Regions from separate parts of the Homo sapiens genome. Here region 2 is linked to region 1. The links come from fine-mapping of genetic effects on gene expression. A gene starts in region 1. The other region holds a variant in brackets. All regions are shown on one strand. Distances are from middle to middle. Region 1 holds the start of MPC1 (mitochondrial pyruvate carrier 1). Region 2 overlaps LOC107986669 (a long non-coding RNA gene).

What was found. PIP is the estimated chance that this variant, and not a neighbour inherited with it, causes the effect.
Region 2: its variant is the best candidate, but not a certain one, in a credible set for the expression of MPC1 in whole blood (TOPMed, PIP 0.87).

Annotation. Positions count from the first base shown.
Region 1 is chr6:166,380,997-166,384,996 of GRCh38, forward strand. MPC1 (mitochondrial pyruvate carrier 1) reads right to left here and starts at 1,944. Exons shown (of 5, transcript NM_016098.4): 1 at 1,810-1,944. The coding sequence starts at 1,880. MPC1-DT (MPC1 divergent transcript) reads left to right here and starts at 2,182. Exons shown (of 1, transcript NR_189630.1): 1 at 2,182-4,000. RefSeq lists an enhancer at 1,087-1,266 and silencers at 1,627-1,726, 1,877-2,616.
Region 2 is chr6:166,311,521-166,316,048 of GRCh38, forward strand. LOC107986669 (a long non-coding RNA gene) reads left to right here. Exons shown (of 3, transcript XR_001744464.2): 3 at 3,369-4,528. Among named protein-coding and RNA genes, the nearest start is that of PRR18, 5.4 kb to the left of the region's middle. The variant TA/T (reference allele first, on the strand shown) is at 1,668.

The DNA.
Region 1 (4,000 bases):
ATTTTTATATAGCTAGGTGTCATAACTGTATTTTTAATTTTACCACACAATGTTATCCTTAGCTGTACCTATTAGGAAGGCTCAGTATCCAACACATTAGTAAAAAGCTAAAGTAATATTCAAAGCTGTAGAGAAACTTAACAGCAAGGATTGAGAGCATACCCTCAGACTGCTACCTTGTTCACATTTTTACTACCATTAATCTGATACATTGCTGTGCTCCACAGTGCTAAACACCCATCTTAATTAATAGTAGTTCTATTTAAGCATAGAAATGTCTTTTTTTGAAAGTCAGAAGTGAAGCTTCTGTTTACAAGTTTACCATATGGCAGACTGAATTATTTTTCCTACCCTACTGCTCTATAAAAGTAGAAGTAAACAGTATTTGCAATAAAATTCAGGATTTAAAACTTTTTTATTGCTAAAATCAAGTTGCCTTCATACTATCCCTTTTGTGTGGTTATAACAGGATTTATTCCTCCTCAGCTTTCATCTCTTTACCTCTTGACCACACTATTAACTACCGAAAAAAAACCGCAGCTGTACACGTACCTAGGTTTTAAAATCATACACTGAAAAACTAACTAAAATTACACTCCTAAATAACCTAAAACTGCTTCAAAGTTATATTCAATATTTTGAAATAAAAGCAAGCGCCCCAAGATGAGAGGTGCAAATAAATTATAGAAAGTGTATTTTCAGGCTTTCCAACCGCGAATGCTCTTTGTTTCTAACTGGAAAGGAGGAGTTAACAGAAAATAGAACAAGAAGAAAAAGTATGACCTTAGAGACACGTCACTTTACTTTGGTTGACAGAATTTCGTATATAAAAACATCTTAAATTGTACTTCCTCCCAAGCTTAAAGTCCTTAGAATGAGAAAACCGAAAGGCGAACCCAAGGCCAGCACATTTTATTTCCGCTGTCCCAGAAGCGCGCTGGGCGCACCCGAAGCTCCGCTCCAACAGCGCCGCGCCGCGCTCTCAGCAGCGCCTCCCGCTGGCGTCTCCCCACCCCACACCCAGGTCGCCGCCTCTGGCACACCTGGACGGCCGCAGGTGACCGGCGACCCACTCCGAGGATCTGGTAGAAACCGGCCAGGAAACCACTCCCGCCCGGAGGAGCGAGCCACTGTCAACTGGCCCGGAGGGACGTGCCCACTGCCAACCATGGGAGAGGAACGAGCCTCTGTCACCCCTGCCGGGTCACCCTGCCCTGAGGGGCGCCCACTGTCACCCCTGCCGGGAGAGGCGTCCCCATGGTCACCCTGTCCTGAGGAGCGCCGTCGCTTTCGTCCCTCCAGGTCCCCACTGCCACTCTGGCCGGGAAGGGCGTCCACTGTTATGCCTACCAGGAGAGGCGTCCCCAGTGTCACCTTGGCCAGGAGGGACGCCCACCGTCACCCACTCCCTGAAGGGGACTCAATGTCACCCCTGCCTTGAGGGGCGCCCACTGTCACCCTGCCGGGAGAGGACACCCACTGTCACCCCCGCCCTGAGGAGCGCCCACTGTCACCCTGCCGGGAGAGGACACCCACTGTCACCCCCGCCCTGAGGGGCGCCCACTGTCACCCCCGCCCTGAAAGGCGCCCACTGTCACCGGCTCTCTACGCCGTCCGCTTCGGGGTGTGGCGGTCCGGGAGGGATCCGGGTGGGGCCCCCCTGACAAGCGCACCCTCTCGCCTGGGCCCCGGCCCACCCGCTGCCCGGGGCCACCGCGTCCTCGCGGCCGCCCTCGTCGCGGACTGCACGGGTCGCAGCCTCCCGGGAGCCCCTCCGGGTTGCGGGGTTCGGCCTGCGGCGCTCGTCACCTCATGAGGTAGTCCCGGAAATCCTTGCTTCGGACATAGTCCGCCGCTTTCCGCACCAACGCGCCCGCCATGGCTGTGCCGACACCAGACCCCGAGTGGTCCCTGCCTCTGCTGCCGCTTCCCAGAGCCAATGACACCCCGGCCAACCCCCCGGCAGCCGACGGCGAGCCAGCCCGAAGGCCCGCCTCACGACACCCGGCCACGCCTTACGGCCGCGCCGCGCCGCCCGGCTCTCGGCCAATGACAGGGCGCAGGGCCAGAGATGGTGGCGCGGACTGGCTGGCTCGTGCCGCACGCCTCCTTCCCGCCCTCGGTGGCGCACGGGGGCGGGGCCCGCTGCCGTAAAACGGCTGGGGCTGGGCCGGGGCTGGCAGGCGGTTGCTAGGCTCCAGCGGCTCCCGGCCAGCGGGGACGTGGAGGTGACATTTCTCTGACCCACAGGACTGTGGGCGCCCTGCCGAGCGTCGCGCGGTCTTGGGGCGACCTGCAGTGGGGCCCCTGCGGCGCAGCGCGCGGTGGGACTGGCCGGGTTCCCGCGCCGCCCAGGGCCTGTGTCTGCGCCGGTTCCTGGCAAGGGCACCTTGGCCGGGCGGCCCGCGTCCCCTGCGCTTCCCACACCCACGTGGGCGGACCCGGCCCGCAAGCTGGGCCAGCCTGCGGTTTCCGGGCACTGGGGAGTGCGCAGAGCCCCGGGCCAGCGACCGCAGCCGGGGCCCCTGGCTTCTCCCGAGCACTTTCCCCCGGACCGGTCCCTCCAGGGTGGCGGGCGGCACCCAGGGCCGGCGCTCCTCACCAACGCGCTGCAGCTACGGGCTCAGGAGGGAGCCGCAGCGTCGGAGGAGGAAAGCATTTAAGAATAGCACAAAGCCTTAGGCTCGAGGAAGCGTGACTGCTTACGTGTTGAAAATAAAGGTTCTGTAAGTCCCACCGCGGGTGCATATTGAAAAGAAAGGGATCATTAGCACGCGACCCTCGCCTAGGAGTATATAAACCGCAGCACGACTTTCGGATCACAAAGGCAGAGAAAAGAACACATTGAAGGCTTTTGCTCACTTTTCCAAGTTGTTTCGTTTCGTTTTGTTTCTAATGTGGACGATCATTTAAAATGCCTCTGGTGGCCGGGCGCGGTGACTGACGCCTGTAATCACAGCACTTTGGGAGGCCGAGGCGGGCGGATCACCTGAGGTCAGGAATTCGAGACCAGCCTGGGCAATACGGTTAAACCCCCTCTCTACTAAAAATAAAAAAATTAGCTGGGCGTGGTGGCATGTGCTTGTAGTCCCAGCTACTTGGGAGGCTGAGACAGAAGAATCGCTTGAACCCGGGAGGCGGAAGTTGCAATGAGCCAAGATTGCGCCATTGCATTCCAGCCTGGGCAACAGAGCAAGACCCTGTCTCCAAAAAAAACAAATAAATATAACAAAATTCCTCTGGTAGCCGGGTGCGGTGGCTCACGCCTGTAATCTCAGCACTTTGGGAGGCTGAGGCAGGTGGATCACTTGAAGTCAAGAGTTTGAGACCAGCCTGGCCAATATAGTGAAACCTCATCTCTACTGAAAATACAAAAATTAGCCAGGCGTGGTGATGCGCTCCTGTGATCCCAGCTACTCGGGAGGCTGAGGCGTGAGAATCGGTTGAACCCGGGAGGTGGAGGTTGTAGTGATCCGAGATTGTGCCATTGCACTCCAGCCTGGGCAACAGAGGGAGATCCTGTCTCTAAAATAAAAAATAAAAGAAATGCCTTTGGTGAACAGGAATTCTCAACATTAGTGACCCGCAGTGTATTAGTGTTAATAATGGACATCCCCTTTGATCCAGCAAGCCCATCTAGAGATTTCCTAGGATAGACAAGCCAGTTTGTGCAATTTCATGTGTACAGCATTGTTTTTAGTATGGAAAGATTAGAGTTTACATATCTACCCATAGGGAGAGAGTTAAATAAATTATGGTGCATCCGTTTAGTGGATTAGTATACAGCCATTAGGAATAAAGGAATTCTTTATGTGCTGATATGAAATATCTTTTTTATTTTCAAGAAAAAAACCCAGGTTCTGAATAGTGTATAAAGTATGCTACTCATTGTGCATAGGGACAAAGAAAATATATACATTCATGTTTGCAAAGATACTGGAGAAATGTTAGTAGTGGCTGCCTCTAAGGATGACCAAGAGTGACACTGACTTTTCATTGT
Region 2 (4,528 bases), 69 kb before region 1:
GATTTAAAAGGTCAACTAACCAAAACCAAATACAGTTTACCCTTGAACACCATGGGTTTGAACTGCGAGGGTCCACTTACAGGAGGATTTTCCTCTGCCTCTGCCACTCCTGAGACAGCAAGACCAACCCCTCCGCTTCCTCCTCAGCCTACTCAAGGTAATGGTGATGAGGATGAAGACCTTCATGATGATCCACTTCAATACTTAAGAATAGTAAATGTATTTTCTCTTCTTCATGATTGTCTTAACATTTTCTTCAGCTCACTTTAAGAATACTGTATAATATATATAATACATATAACATAAAAAATATGGTGTTTTTTTTTTTGCTTTTGTTTTTGTTTTTTGAGACAGGGTCTCTGTTGCCCAGGCTGGAGGGCAGTGGTGCGATCTCGGCTCACTGCAAGCTCCGCCTCCCGGGTTCACACCATTCTCCTGCCTCAGCCTCCTGAGTAGCTGGGACTATAGGCGCCCACCACCACGCCCAGCTAATTTTTTGTACTTTTAGTAGAGACGGGGTTTCACCGTGTTAGCCAGGATGGTCTCGATTTCCTGACCTTGTGATCCACCCACCTCAGCCTCCCAAAGTGCTGGGATTGCAGGCGTGAGCCACTGCGCCCGGCTAACATACAAAATATGTTAATCAACTAAGTTATCGATAAGACTTCTGGTCAACAGTAGGCTATTAGTAGTTATGTTTTGCAGAGTCAAAAGTTACACAAGGATTTCTGACCCTATGGGAGGCTGGTACCCCTAACCCCCACATTGCTTAGGGGTCCTATGTATTTGGAACTGTCCATATTTTTGACTTATGTTTTACGTCATTTATGTTTTAAATTAAATTTGATTTTCAGATTTCAAATATAACAATAACACAATATTGTCCACATGTGGGAATGGTGATTATCCACCCGCCCCACTATTCTGTCAGAGTAAAGTGTGTATCAGAGTAAAGAATTTCCATTACAACAACCCTTTAAGACATTTCCAGTGAATAATATGTGCACAGAGAATATTTCAATCACTAAAATAAAACACCAGGAAGTTTACATTCAGGCCCAACTACAATTACAGAGGGCAGCTGTTCCACCGATTTGAACTGTGTGGACTGAAGAATTATCAAGGCTGCAGCTCGGTGACCCTGCTGTGTAAAGGGCCTCAGATCTGATCATCCCAACTGCCCAGACCCTACAGAAATGATCCCAAGGATTCCGGGCTCCCACACGATGCGCGCTGGCTGCTCAACTGCTCACTCCTGCCTCGTAACCAGTGAATAAAATTAGAGCCAGTAATCACATCACAACACCAGGAAATTAGCCATTATTTGAAAAACATTTCATTTTTCTCATTAACTTAATTTCTTCTTTTTTACTAAGTTATATAATATTTAAATGTACATTCAGAAAAACTTCAAAATGGGAACTATTTCAATACATTGTTTCTCATTATCCCCTATGGTCTACTTCTTTCTATACTTTCATTCAAATCATTTTACATGATGTAACAGTAAGCAATCAAACATCTAGAACTAAAACCAAACCTGAATTTTAACACAGAAGCTTATTCCAGTTTAAAACCAATTTTATTACTTGGAAAACTTGCCAATAACTTAAAAATGTCTACATTTCTTCTAACGCTGGTCTGTTACTGTGAAAGGCTTTGGGAAT[TA/T]AAAAAACACTTAGGAAATGTGTTGGATGCTAACAATTTTAAAGTACTTCTTTTTCCCCATTATTAAGATGATAACAGGCAATGTCTATTCTGCACTAAATAATCCACTTTATCTGGATTAGTTACATCGTTGAAAGCTCATGAAAGCCCTGTGAGAGCAGTACTAGCAATACTTGCATTTTACAGATGACAAACCAAGGCTTACCCAAGCAGTCACACAACTAGCACGCGGCCAGGGGCAGCCTGTCTAGGCAGGGGGCGCCAGAGCACACGCTTCCCTCCATGCCGGGGGGGGGGGGTCCCAATTTCTTTGGTCTCAAGACCAGATGGCTGAGAACCCCAAAGAGCTTCTGTTTTGTGGATTTTACCTATTATGTTAACCTTATTAGAAATTTAAATAGCTTTAAATACATTACATGTTAGCAATAAACCCATTATGTTAACATATTTTTAATATATTTTTAAAAACTATTTTCTAAAATAAACAAATGAGAGATGAGTGGTGGGCTCAGTAGAAGCCATAGGATCTCGCATGCACTGTGTTCTGTCCTGTGCCATCACGCACCACGGGACCACAGTAACGCCACTGTGTGCTGGGGATCGCAGGAGAGAGGAAAAGAGTGATGCTGGCTCAGTATCACTATGAAAACAGACCCTAACAGGCCTCCGAGACCCCAGGCGTCCTGGGAACACGTTGTGAGAAGTGCTGCATTGAGACCGCTGACAACCAGTAGCCTTTCTATCAAAAATCCTTAACCCAGTAACCCGCGGATGGCCCAAATGCATTCCATCGGTAGCAGCAGCAGCTTTGCTAGCAGAAGAAAGTAGAAAAATAACCTTTAGAGGAAACCTCATTGTGAGCACACCTCACCAGTTCAGAGCTATCCTAAGTAAAAGAAAAAAAAAAAAGGTAGCTTACTAACTCAAAAATCTAAAAGTATAGGGCTATTCTGTTAGACAAAGGTGATTTAACGTTAACCACTAAAAATTCCCTTAACCCAGAAGGTTTCCTAATGAGGAATTTAAATCTTAATTACCATACAAAGGTCTAACCAGACCCAGGAGGAAATCCCTTCAGGACAGGACCATAGATGGTTCCTCCCCGGTGATTGAGGGGAGAAAAAAAAAGCCCACAATTGGTATTCAGTAATTGATAGGGAAACTCTTGTAGAAGCAGAGTTAGGAAAATTGCCTAACAATTGGTCTGCTCAAACGTGCGAGCTGTTTGCACTCAGTCAAGCCTTAAAGTACTCACAGAATCAAAAAACTCTATCTCAATCCTGACTCAAAAGGTTACCTACACCCTCTCTGAAACGAATTTGTGCAAGAACTGTTGTTTATGGGACTGCATCTTGATGGGGCAGCTGGGTTGTCATGAAATACTCAGGAACCCAGCCCAACTCTGGGACTCACCCCTGAGCGCAAAAGCGACGTTGGGCATGCTGGTAAAGGACCACTAGAATCCAGCAGCCCGGACTGCTTTCTTGGTGGTCAAGAAAGGTGGGAAAAGGGGTGCAAGACTGCTACATCAGTAAGCATAACTAATCCGATAAGCAGAGGTCCATGAGTGGTTACGCACCCTGGAAAGGAATAAGCATTAAGACCACAGCGGACACTCTAGGACTAATGCTCATCGGAAAATGACTAGGGGTGCTGGCATCCATATATATATATATATATTTTTTTTTTTTTTTTTTCAGATGAGAAACATTCCCCTCAAGGCAAAAATGTCCCCAAGATGTATTCTGGAGAATTCAGCCCAGTCAGAGTGTATGTACCTTTTTCCCTCTCAGACTTGAAACAAATTAAAATAGACCTAGGTACATTCTCAGATAACCCTGATGACTATATTGATGTTTTACAAGAATTAGGACAATCCTTTGATCTGACATGGAGAGATGCAATGTTACTGCTAAATCAGACACTAACCCCAAATGAGAGAAGTGCCACCATAACTGCAGCCCGAGAGCTTGGCGATCTCTGGTATCTCAGTCAGGTCAATGATAGGATGACAACAGAGGAAAGAGAACGATTCCCTACAGGCCAGCAGGCAGTTCCCAGTGCAGACCCTCATTGAGACACAGAATCAGAACATGGAGATTGGTGCTGCAGACATTTACTAACTTGCGTGCTGGAAGGACTAAGGAAAACCAGGAAGAAGCCTGTGAATTTTTCAGTGATGTCCACTGTAACACAGGGAAAGGAAGAAAATCCTACTGCCTTTCTGGAGAGACTAAGGGAGGCACTGAGGAAGCATACCTCCCTGTCACCTGACTCTATTGAAGGCCAACTAATCTTAAAGATTAAGTTTATCACTCGGTCAGCTGCAGACATTAGAAAACAAACTTCAAAAGTCCACCTTAGGCCTGGAGCAAAACTTAAGACACCCTATTGAACTTGGCAACCTCGGTTTTTTATAATAGAGATCAGGAGGAGCAGTCGGAATGGGACAAACGAGATTAAAAAAAAAAAAGGCCACCGTTTCAGTCATGGCCCTCAGGCAAGCGGACTTTGGAGGCTCTGGAAAAGGAAAACCTGAACAAATCGAATGCCTAATAGGGCTTTCTTCCGGTGCGGTCTACAAGGACACGTTAAAAAAGATTGTCCCAATAGAAACAAGCCGCCCCCTCATCCATGCCCCTTATGTCAAGGGAATCACTGGAAGGCCCACTGCCCTGGGGGACGAAGGTCCTCTGAGTCAGAAGCCATTCACCAGATGATCCAGCAGCAGGACTGAGGGTACTGGGGCAAGCACCAGCCCATGCCATTACCCTCACAGAGCCCCGGGTATGCTTGACCATTGAGGGCCAGGAGGTTAACTGTTTCCTGGACACTCGTGCGGCCTTCTGTCTTACTCTCC